3 linked regions of the Homo sapiens genome follow. The protein of the gene in region 1 interacts with the protein of each later gene in a pairwise test. Each region holds a gene or a part of one and is shown on either strand. Other genes may lie near its edges. The genes, in order: UBXN6, SVIP and PLEKHB2.

Region 1 (3,652 bases):
AGCTGTGACCTGAGGGTGGAGAGTCTTATGGCAGGGAGGGAGGGAGGATGTGACACCCCTTGAGTCTCCTCAATTCCTGAGGATGCGGGCTGGGTGCTGTGGCTCATGCCTATAATCCCAGCAGTTTGGGAGGCCACGGTGGGAGGATCATTTGAGGCAAAAGTTCGAGACCAGCCTGAGCTACATAGCGAGACCCTGTCTCGATAGAAAAATTAGCCAGGCATGATGATGCTTGCCTCTAAGTCCCAGCGACTTGGGAGGCTGAGGCGGGAGGATTCCTTGAGCCTGGGAGCTCAGGATTGCAGTAAGCCATGATCGTGCCACTATACTCCAGCCTTGGTGAGAGAGCAAGACCCTGTCTCAAAAAGAAAAAAAGCACTGAGGATGTCAAGGTGCCTTCACCTCAGGAGGGGTGCTGTCACCCCATTTTACAGATGAGGACGCTGAGGGCCAGTGGGGGCAGGACTTGCCCGATGGTGCAGAGCTGAGTGGAACCAGCATCTCCTTCCTCCAGGGGCTCTTCCGCCTGCAGTAGAACCATCTGGTGGCTGCAGGTGGCCCCTGGGAACCAGGTGTCCTGGCCCACATAGGCAGGGACACGTCTGGCTGATGGTGCTGGGGAGGGGCAGAAGCTCCTCTGTGTGACTGCACGTCAGCTTTGCCGGCCACCTCGGGAGGATACACTCACTCTCCCTCGGTCTGTTCCCAGGGAAAAGGCCCACAAAGAGAAGCCCAACCAGCCAGCCCCCAGGCCGCCCCGCCAGGGACCCACCAATGAGGCACAGATGGCAGCCGCTGCCGCCCTAGCCCGGCTGGAGCAGAAGCAGTCCCGGGCCTGGGGCCCCACATCGCAGGACACCATCCGAAACCAGGGTGAGATATGGCCCTCCTCGGGCCCAGGTTGGGGCTGTTTGAGGTTCTCGGCCCTGGTGCCTGGCCCTGGATGCAGAAGTCACATGAGCAACCGTGGGGGTGTGAGGGTCACCCTTGGGAGCGGCTCATCAAGGGCAGGTGCTGGGGGAAGGGCAGCTTCCTGGGGAGGGGGTGGGAGCAGAGACTTGGAGCAGAAACGGGCTGCCCAGGCAGTGGGGTGCTTGCTCAGGCTGAGGGGTGGCTGCACAGCAAGTCCTGCAGGGGACCTCCAGCCTGACCTCCAGCAGAAGCAGGCTGGGGCGGTGTGCGTGGCCCCCAGGCCCACCCCGGGAATGAGGGGGCTTGGGCCAGGACAGCGGCGTGCTCACTATCCCGTCTCTGCCTCTCTTTCTTGGGCTGCCTTCCAGTGAGAAAGGAACTTCAAGCCGAAGCCACCGTCAGCGGGAGCCCCGAGGCCCCAGGGACCAACGTGGTAAGAACAGCCACTGGTGGCACTGTCCCATGCCAAGGGGTGGGGACAGCTTGACTGTGTCACGGGGGAGATGTGGCCTCTGCCCTTGGGGCTCAAGGGCTGTTGGAAAACCTTGCCTTGCAAGGTGGACACAGGTTGTGGTGGAACACGGTGTTGTCTGGGACCTTCGGGGCTCGGCAGCTGAGGATGCCGGCTCAGGCCTGGAGAAGTGGGCCTCAGGTACACGAGCCCATCGCTCCCTCCCCTTAACCCCTTAAGGGCAGATGCAGTTACAGTTTCCACTATTCAAAAAGAGAACCGGGGTTGAGAGAGGTGAAACCAGCTGTCCTCTCTCCTACACCCCAGGACCAGCAAAGGCAGGACCAGAGCCAGTCTGTGGTTTCAGAGCCTGTCCCCTAGCACTGCCCAGTCCTGCCTGCCTTGGAGGTCAAGAGGCTCTGTGGAGACGGGTGGAATCAGGGAGGCCTTCCTCTAGGAGGTGGGCCTTCAGAGCTCCGCTGAAAGGAGTTCTAAGCAGCTTGACCCTCGAGGATTCAGTGAATTTTAGCACGCAGGGACCTTAGAGATGGCCTAGAAATGGAGGCCCAGAAGTCATGCCTTGTCCAGCGCACTGTGCCCGCAGACACCCACACAGAGCTCCTTCCTCAACAGCTTGGGGACAGGACCAGCAGGAACCCAGCTGCCATCTGCTGGGTGTTTCCTGCGTGTCAGAAGCTGCTCCGTACTTTCCGTTCCTTACCTCGTTTAGTTCTGAGCAGGCCCCACAGGGACATTTGACATACCAGGGAAAAGACTCGGGGATCCGGTCACTTGGCCAGGGTGTCTCCCACGGCCACCAGGTGGAAGGGACAGCATGGGGGCTGGAGATGTCTGGTTCTACGGGCCACACTCAGGACTGTGGTGCTCGGCGAGGGTCGGGGTGGCCTCTGTCCACGGTCCAGACTTGGACGCTTTCACCGCCCCAGGTATCTGAGCCCAGAGAGGAAGGCTCTGCCCACCTGGCTGTGCCTGGCGTGTACTTCACCTGTCCGCTCACTGGGGCCACCCTGAGGAAGGACCAGCGGGACGCCTGCATCAAGGAGGCCATTCTCTTGGTGAGTGGCACCCTGTGTGCTCCTGCCCCAACCTGTAGCTTCCTGTGCCTGAGCCACCCTCCATCGGAAGCCCAGGTGGTACAGATCCCTCCCAGAGTCCCCAGAGGCCACTGCTAGTAGTGAAGCCCCTCCTCTGATACCCCAAATCCAGGCACACCATTGTGTATGCATCTGTATCTCCTCTCTCCCAACTAGGTGTCTTTTTTTTTTTTTTTGAGATGGAGTCTCACTCTGACACCCAGGCTGGAGTGCAGTGGCGCATTCTCGGCTCACTACAACCTCCGCCTCCTGGATTCAAACGATTCTCGTGCCTCAGCCTCTCAAGTAGCTGGGATTACAGGCACCTGCCACCATGCCTGGCTAATTTTTGTATTTTTAGTAGAGATGGGGTTTCACCATGTTGGCCAGGCTGGTCTCGAACTTTTGCCTCAAGTGATCAACCCGCCTCAGCCTCCCAAAGTGCTAGGATTACAGACGTGAGCCACCACGCGTGGCCTGGTTGTTTTTCATAAAAGGTTAAGTATTATTTGCTTCAATACAGAAAGAACTTCCTACAAAATTAGCCAGGCATGGTGGCACATGCCTGTAATCCCAGCTACTCGGGAGGCTGAGGCAAGAGAATTGCTTGAATCCAGGAGGCAGAGGTTGTGGTGAGCCGAGATAGCGCCATTGCACTCCAACCTGGGCAACAAGAGCAAAACTCCATCTCAAAAAATAAAAACGTCCACAGCATTTTTTTCCAATACAGCAAGTCCTCACTTAACACCATCAATAGGTTCTCAGAAACTTCGGCTTTAGCCTGGGCAACATGGCAAAACCCTGTCTCTGCCAAAAACAAAAAAAAATAGCTGGGCATGGTGGCGTGCACCTGCAGTCCCTGCTACTCAGAAGGCTGAGGTGGGAGGATTGCTTCAGCCTGGGAGGTAGAGGCTGCAGTGAGCTGTAATCATGCCACTGCACACCAGCCTGGGTGACAAGTGAGACCCTTTCTCAGAAAATAGTAAGTGGCTGGGCGCGGTGGCTCTTGCCTGTAATTCCAGTGCTTTGGGAGGCTGAGGCAGGTGGATCACCTGAGGTCAGAAGTTCCAAGACCAGCCTGGTCAACATAGTGAAACCCCCTATCTACTAAATATACAAAAATTAGCCAGGCGTGGTGACAGGCGCCTGTAATCCCAGCTACTCAGGAGACTGAGGCAGGAGAATCGCTTGAACC
Region 2 (3,652 bases), on another chromosome or scaffold:
TTCTGTTTTATGGCCTGAGCTCTTTTACGCATTGATTTGGAATCTTTGATCTTTCCATTGCCCCTGTTTATTATAGTTATGTAAATGTTAATTTGGATTACAGAATGTATACAGGTGTGGGTATCATACACATACCTCCCTAGATATGGATCCCAGAGCTAGACACTGGGAATATAATGGTGGACAAGTTAAGCAGAGTCTCTGAATGCTGGAGTCTTTACACTCTAGCAGGACTTTAAAGGATTTATTTTTAAAATCCCTTAAAGCTCAGGAAAATAATGGCTCAGATATTAAGAATTTATTCTTGGTCCATTTTTAAAGTAAATAGTAGTATATTTGTGAAAAGGACAATGTCTTTAATTTCAGTCATTTATATTTAACTTGTCAATGATTTATGAGTACCTTTCAACAGATTTATTGGTTTTTTTTCTCTCAAAACTACACACACACACACATGCACATACATATACATGGACATATACACATACACTTGCCTACATGTAGATACTCTCGTAACTTGTGGGGCAGGCAGTTTATGAACACCCTGAGCAGTTGATTCTGGCTCAAGAATATCACAGAAATAAGAATGTGTGTCTGTGTATTTTACTATTGTACGTTACTTCATCTTATATCATTTAACGAATGAAAATTTATGAAGTTTTTTTATGGTGAACTTTTAGCAATATATAATTAGTTTCAATATAAGGTAAATAAGTCTGACCATTTTGCTTATGTTTTTTATAATTCCATAATAGAACAGAATAGGTCTAGTGTAAAGTAAAACAGTTGGGTGATAACGAGGTCAATTCTTTATCATATCTCAATATTCTGTTGAGATAAAGTGCTGTTTCACTAGGTTTACTTCATATAGGGTTGTCAAAAACAAACACAAAATTACAAAAGTTAAATTGTAGGACTGGAAATAATGAGATCCACTATTTCACAGTAGAAGTGGTGAAGGTATTAAGTTAAAGTCATACGTAATGTTATAGGAAAAGGATAATTTAATCAACACTTAATCATAATTAAGAAGACACTTCACAAGTTCTAACCTAATGAAATTAACATCAGCTTTTAAAGTATAATAAAGAAAGAGGCTTTCTTAAACTTGAAGCTTCCACACTCTGAAGTCTATAGATTAAAAAAAAAATTTAGGCCTTATATTACTTACAATCCATTCAAAAGTGCTCAAAATGTAAAACATACCCAAAGTTAAATTTAGTTTCTGTTTTTCTTTGTGTACTGTTCTTGTAAGAAATCTCTCAAACTCACTTAGTAAAAATGACCTTCAGGACCTTGAAACTATATAGTGGCAGGAGGATTTTCTCCAGTGGCTCACTGTCATTAGCCACTGCTGTTGTCCACTGTGAGTAATTTTTCCTTGGAATATTCCTCATCACCTACCACTACCACACTAGCTTCAAGTGGCATGCTCCATTCTGCTTGACACATGCACAACATGTCAAGAGCATGAAGTGAAAAAATTCTGGAAGGCTCAGGGATAACAGAAGGGAAAAATACAAGGCAGAAGTACTTAACCCTCAAAACGCTTGGCCTATGGTCCTTTAATGGCTGCTGTCTGGCTTGTTTCATGGGCTGGCCTGAAGTATTGGTAGAGTCTTCCTAAGGTAGGAAGGTTAGGAAGACTCTTCCCTAGGTAGAGTCTTTCTGACCTGACTCTACCTAGAGTATGAGTCTAGTTTGCATTCCCTGTCTTCATGCCTTTCACCTATTCATCTCCTGACCAGTGCTGCATCTTTCCAGGGTAATTAGCATGGGTAATGCTGTCTTCTGACTTCTTACCTGAAGAAGTCAATGTGATGATGGCATCAGGATGCAAAGTACTATCAGTACAGGATATAGCAGCACGGGAGTAAGGGTAGACCTCTAGTACAATGGCTTTCCACCTTAGCTGCATGTTGGAGTTTCATAGGCAGCTTTCAAAAAGGATTGTTCATTGGGCTCCACCTCACACCAGTCAGTCTCTGAGAGTAGGGTTTAGCCATCAGGACTGTTTTAAGCTTCCCAAGGTAATCTAATGTGAACCCAGATTGAGAATCACTATCCTAGCGTTTATAACACTTGTCCTAAGAGAGATGTTTTGGAAGATAGAGTCCCATGGGAATAAATGTTTAAAAATGCTAAATTGTATATTGTAGACTATATCCCCTTCTTAGAGACTAAAAAAGGCACAGAATTATGGCCTCTAAGAAATTGTACAATGAAGAAAAGCAAGTTTACTTGGATTAATCTTTAATGTTGAAAATTTATTTAAACATAGATTTTATATATATATGTGTGTATATATATACGTATATATATACATATATATATACGTATATATATGTGTATATATATATATATGTGTGTGTGTATATATATATATAAAACACCCAATAATATTCCTTGGATGTACTTGGAAAACACTATCAAGAGATTGCCAAATATCTCTGGTTCTATCCTAATGGCTCTTCAGGACCTATCACAGATTTAATAGACTTCATTAAACAAAGGGGCAAATGGAATATTTTCTTAACTCAAGAAGGAAAAGACCTTGCCAAACCATTTTTTAATGGTTTCTGCCATTTCTTGACTCCCTGGCTCAAACAAGAATTTTTAAATTTTTGTTTTGTTGTGTTTTATTTTGTGTTCCTTTACTGATTATTGGATATTTAGGCTCTTGCTACTGAATAGCAGGTTCACTGTGCAGTGGTTACCAACTTCAGAGTCCAGTGGACAGAATACTCATGCATGTAACATTTGCATGAAGAGGCTGAGCACAGTCACTCACACGTGTAATCTCAGCTGTGAGAGGAAGGCTTTGGGAGGCTGAGAAGATGGGATGATCACTTGAGGTCAGGAGTTAAGAGACCAGCCTGGGCAACATAGCGAGACCCTGTCTCTACAAAAATAAAAAATAAATTAGGTGTGGTGGCATGTGCCTGTGGTCCTAGCTTTTCGGGAGGCTGAGGTGGGAGAATGACTTGAGCCTGCGAGGTTAAGGCTGCAGTGAGCCATTCCCACCTCACCCCAGCCTGGGCGATAGAGTGAGACCCTGTCTCAAGAAAATCCCAAAACAAAACCAAAAACATTTAACGTGGAGTGAGTTTATTACTTACAGATTGGCAACAAGGGACAACAGAAGCCTAGGATTCATTATAAGCTTGTCTCCCAAGGAAAACTGCCTGGGGTTGATGACATCTGTGTGTGCCCCACTTGAACCTCAGATGAGTGCCCTGGGTTTTATGACCTGGGGGTTAGAAGGGGAGGTACTACATGACTCCTTGGGCTAAAGCATTGAAGGACGTCCTGTCTTTAGGGAGGGACTGGAACAGAACTTGAGCTGTCCTTGGCCATTCATTTGCTATCCCAGGATGTTACATTCCCAGCACATTCTACAGTTACTCTTGAAAACTACAGGCAAGACAGTGAGACAGAGCTATCCTGCAACTACCCACCAATCTGACCAGATATTTTGTCTTCTTTATGCTTTTAAACTATCATCTTATTTCAGGCTTTGGACTATAATGTAAAATTTTATGAATAGCTGCTATTCAGAAAAATCATTTTGTATTTCTATGTCCCATATTCCTCTTTTTACCTGTTTGTTCACTGAAGTACTGTTATATAACTTCAAGTAAAATTTACTTTT
Region 3 (3,652 bases), on another chromosome or scaffold:
CGATTCAATGCTTTCAAAGAGATACAAATTCAAATTTAAAATAATTTAAATTGTTGAATATGGCTTACATTTTAAAGCTTTGCATAGGTTTTATTGGCATAAAAATAATGTTCTTTTGCAGCTAGTTTGCTGGTGTTTTATTCTCTAGAGACCAACAGCTAGGGCTTAGTGTTTATCTGATGAGTTTTAGTTTATGCATTCAGTTTTGCTCCAGGATATAAATAGTGAAATGTTGAATTAAGTTATGGAGTGGTGTGAAATTCAGCATGCTAAGGCAATCAAACAGAAGTCTTCTGAGCCATTTGAGAAGCAGCTTGATGTCCTTGTTCTTAGAACAGGGCTGTCCAATCTTTAGACTTTCTTGGGCCACATTGGAAGAAGGCCATACATAAAATACACTAACCCTAATGATAGCTGATGCACTAAAAAATAAAATTGCAAAAAAATCTCATAACGTTTTAAGAAAGTTTACAAATTTGTGTTGGGCTGCATTCAAAGCTGACCTGGGCTGGGGCCATGAGTTGGACAAGCTTGTTCTAGAATATTTTCGGCAAATTTTGGTAAGGGGGAAAATAAGTAATAGTAATAATAGTAGTAAATAGTAATAATTGCTGTCAAAGCAGCTACCATTTATCGAGTTCTAGTAACTGTGAGGCACCATGCCAACTACTTACATATTATTTCACCCAATTTTCCGAACATCCTGTCAAGTAGGTGGTGGGAATTTTCGTTTTATAGATCAGGCTTGGAAACGTGACTTGTCCGATTGAGTCAGGATCTGAACATAGGTCTTTTAACTCTAAAGCTTATACCCAAACACTGGGTTCTGTGAAATTTCAAAAGCATATGATAGGCTGACTGCAGTGGCTCATACCTGTAATCCCAGAACTTTGGGAGGCTGAGATGGAAGAATCCCTTGAGCCCAGGAGTTCGAGACCAGCTTGGGCAACATAGTGAAACCTCGTCTCTACAAAAACAAAACAAAATGTGATCAAAATCATACTTCATGATTTTTGGTTTCTAAAGATACTCTCTAAATTTCTCTCCCCAATTTAAAAACGAAAGCAGAGCACTGTTGGAAGGTTCAAATAGGTAGATTAATTTAGGTTGGTTTTTTTGTTTTGGTATAGTTGAAGATAATTCAGGTTATTGTTTACATGTTTACATTTATCAAAATAATACATGTACATAGATTGAAAGACCAAATAGGCTGAGCGTGGTGGCTCAAGCTTTTGGAGGCCAGCACTTTTGGAGGCTGAGGCGGGTGGATCCCCTGAGGTCAGGAGTTTGAGACCAGCCTGACCAACGTGGTAAAATCCCGTCTGTACTAAAAGTACAAAAATCAGCTGTGCGTGGTGGTGGGCGCCTGTAATCCCAGCTACTTGGGAGGCTGAGGCAGGAGAATCGCTTGAACCTGGAAGGCGATGGGTGCAGTGAGCCAAGATCGCGCCACTATACTCCAGCCTGGGCAACAAGAGCGAAACTCTGTCTCAAAACAAACAAACAAAAAAAACAACCAAATAGTGCTTTAAACCTTAGAATAAAAAAAAATATATCAATCTCTTGTCCACCCCCTTTTTAAACTATAGACAACTATTTTCACCTTTTTTTGGCACTTTTTAAAATAGTATTTTGGCTGGGTGTGGTGGCTCACACCTGTAATTCCAGCACTTTGGGATGCCAAGGCAAGTGGATCATGAGGTCAGGAGATCGAGACCATCCTGGCTGACACGGTGAAACCCTGTCTCTACTAAAAATACAAAAAAATTACCTGGGTGTGGTGGCGGTTGCCTGTAGTCCCAGCTATTCGGGAGGCTGAGGCAGGAGAATGGCATGAACCTGGGAGGTGGAGGTTGCAGAGAGCTGAGATCGCGCCACTGCCCTCCAGCCTGGGTGACAGAGTGAGACTCCGTCTCAAAAAAAAAAAATAGTATTTTATCTTTGTGGATATGGTAAAATTGCTATTGATTTACATGTAATCTTTTGACTTTTGATCATAGAAGACTTTTGCTGCCTTGTAAAACTCTTCAATCCACCAGTGAGTCAAAAACTTGTAGGAAATTTGTCAGTTACTTTTTTTCCTCCCCTGTAGTACTCGGTCCTGCTCCAGTCTGGACTGTTTTTTTTTTTTTTTTTCCTCCCCAGTCCTTCTGCACAGCTGCCTTTCTGGGAATTTCCTCCCCTGCCAGTTGAAGACCGAATCCTACTCTGTCGCCCAGGCTGGAGTGCAGTGACATGATCATTCATGGCTTACTGTGCTTCTACCTTCTGGGCTCAAGCGATCTTCCTACCTCAGTCTCCCGAGTAGGTGGGACTACAGGCGTGCACCACTATGTGCAGCTAACTTCTTATTTTTTTGTTGAGAATGTCTCACTGTGTTGCTGGGTTGGTCTCAAACTCCTGGGCTGAAGCGATTCTCCCACCTTGGCTTCCCAAAGTGTTGGGATTATGCTCAAGAGCCACCATGCCTGGCCTTGATTAATGATTTGACTGGGTGTGGAATTCTGGCTTGGAAATAATTTTCCGTTAGCATTTTGAAGGTATTGCTCTAGATGTCCTGTGTCTTGCTGATTGTTGATCCTTTATATATGCTTTTTTCTTTGGGAAGTTTTTAGGTTCTCTTCTTTGTCCTTGATGTTATGAAATTTCAGTCATCCTACCTATGGAGAATCTTTTAAAATTCATCATGCTGGACAGTCATTGGATCTTTTGAATCTAGAAATGTGTTATCCTGTTGCAGGAAATGGTTTTATAGTATTATTTCTCTGCTCTTTTCTCTGTGGTTTATTTATGAAATTCTCCTATAAGCAGAATTTTTTTTTTTGAGACGGAGTCTCGCTGTGATGCCCAGGCTGGAATGCAGTGGTGGGATCTCAGCTCACTGCAACCTCCGTCTCCCGGGTTCAAGTGATTCTCCTGCCTCAGCCTGCTCAGTAGCTGGGACTACAAGTGCGTGCCACCATGCCTGGCTAATTTTTGTATTTTTAGTAGAGATGGGGTTTCACCATACTGGCCAGGCTCGTCTTGAACTCCTGACCCCAAGTGATCTACCCACCTCAGCCTCCCAAAGTGCTGTGATTAACAGGTATGAGCCACTGTGCCCAGCCAGCAGAATATTTTATATTCCAGGCTCATCCTCTAATTTTTTTCCATCTCTTGGTCTTTTTTTTTTTTTTTTTTAGCTCTTCATTTCAGAGAGATTTCTTCCATCTTGATCTTTCCAACTCTTGTATTGAATTTTTAATTTTGGTTATTATTTTTAATTGAGAGCTCTGAATATTTCTTTTTATTCTTGTTTTTTTTTTTTTTGAGATGGAGTCTCACTCCAGTCACCCAGGCTGGAGTGCAGTGGCACTATCTCGGCTCACTGCAAGCTCCGCCTCCCGGGTTCACGCCATTCTCCTGCCTCAGCCTCCTGAGTAGCTGGGACTACAGGAGCCTGCCACCACGCCCAACTAATTTTTGTATTTTTAGTAGAGACGGGGTTTCACCATGTTGGCCAGGCTGGTCTCGAACTCCTGACCTCAAGTGATCTACTCTCCTCGGCCTCCTAAAGTGTTGGGATTATAGGCGTGAGCCACTGTGGCCAGCTGTAAAGTAATATTTTTAAAGTTTTCTTTTGTACCCAGCATTGTCTCTGATTCTTGAGGTT

The links.
Region 2: the proteins of UBXN6 (region 1) and SVIP interact in binary tests that used the Homo sapiens proteins (3 or more experiments, as listed by UniProt).
Region 3: the proteins of UBXN6 (region 1) and PLEKHB2 interact in binary tests that used the Homo sapiens proteins (3 or more experiments, as listed by UniProt).

The regions. Positions count from the first base shown.
Region 1 is NC_000019.10:4,451,151-4,454,802, reverse strand, and holds part of UBXN6 (UBX domain-containing protein 6), read left to right. Parts: intron 1-709; coding exon 710-873; intron 874-1,280; coding exon 1,281-1,345; intron 1,346-2,310; coding exon 2,311-2,439; intron 2,440-3,652. UniProt on the Homo sapiens protein: May negatively regulate the ATPase activity of VCP, an ATP-driven segregase that associates with different cofactors to control a wide variety of cellular processes.
Region 2 is NC_000011.10:22,823,158-22,826,809, reverse strand, and holds part of SVIP (small VCP/p97-interacting protein), read left to right. Parts: intron 1-3,652. UniProt on the Homo sapiens protein: Negative regulator of the ER-associated degradation pathway (ERAD) of misfolded proteins. It competes with AMFR/gp78 for binding VCP/p97, and inhibits AMFR/gp78-VCP/p97 complex formation that is required for degradation of ERAD substrates.
Region 3 is NC_000002.12:131,108,199-131,111,850, forward strand, and holds part of PLEKHB2 (pleckstrin homology domain-containing family B member 2), read left to right. Parts: intron 1-3,652. UniProt on the Homo sapiens protein: Involved in retrograde transport of recycling endosomes.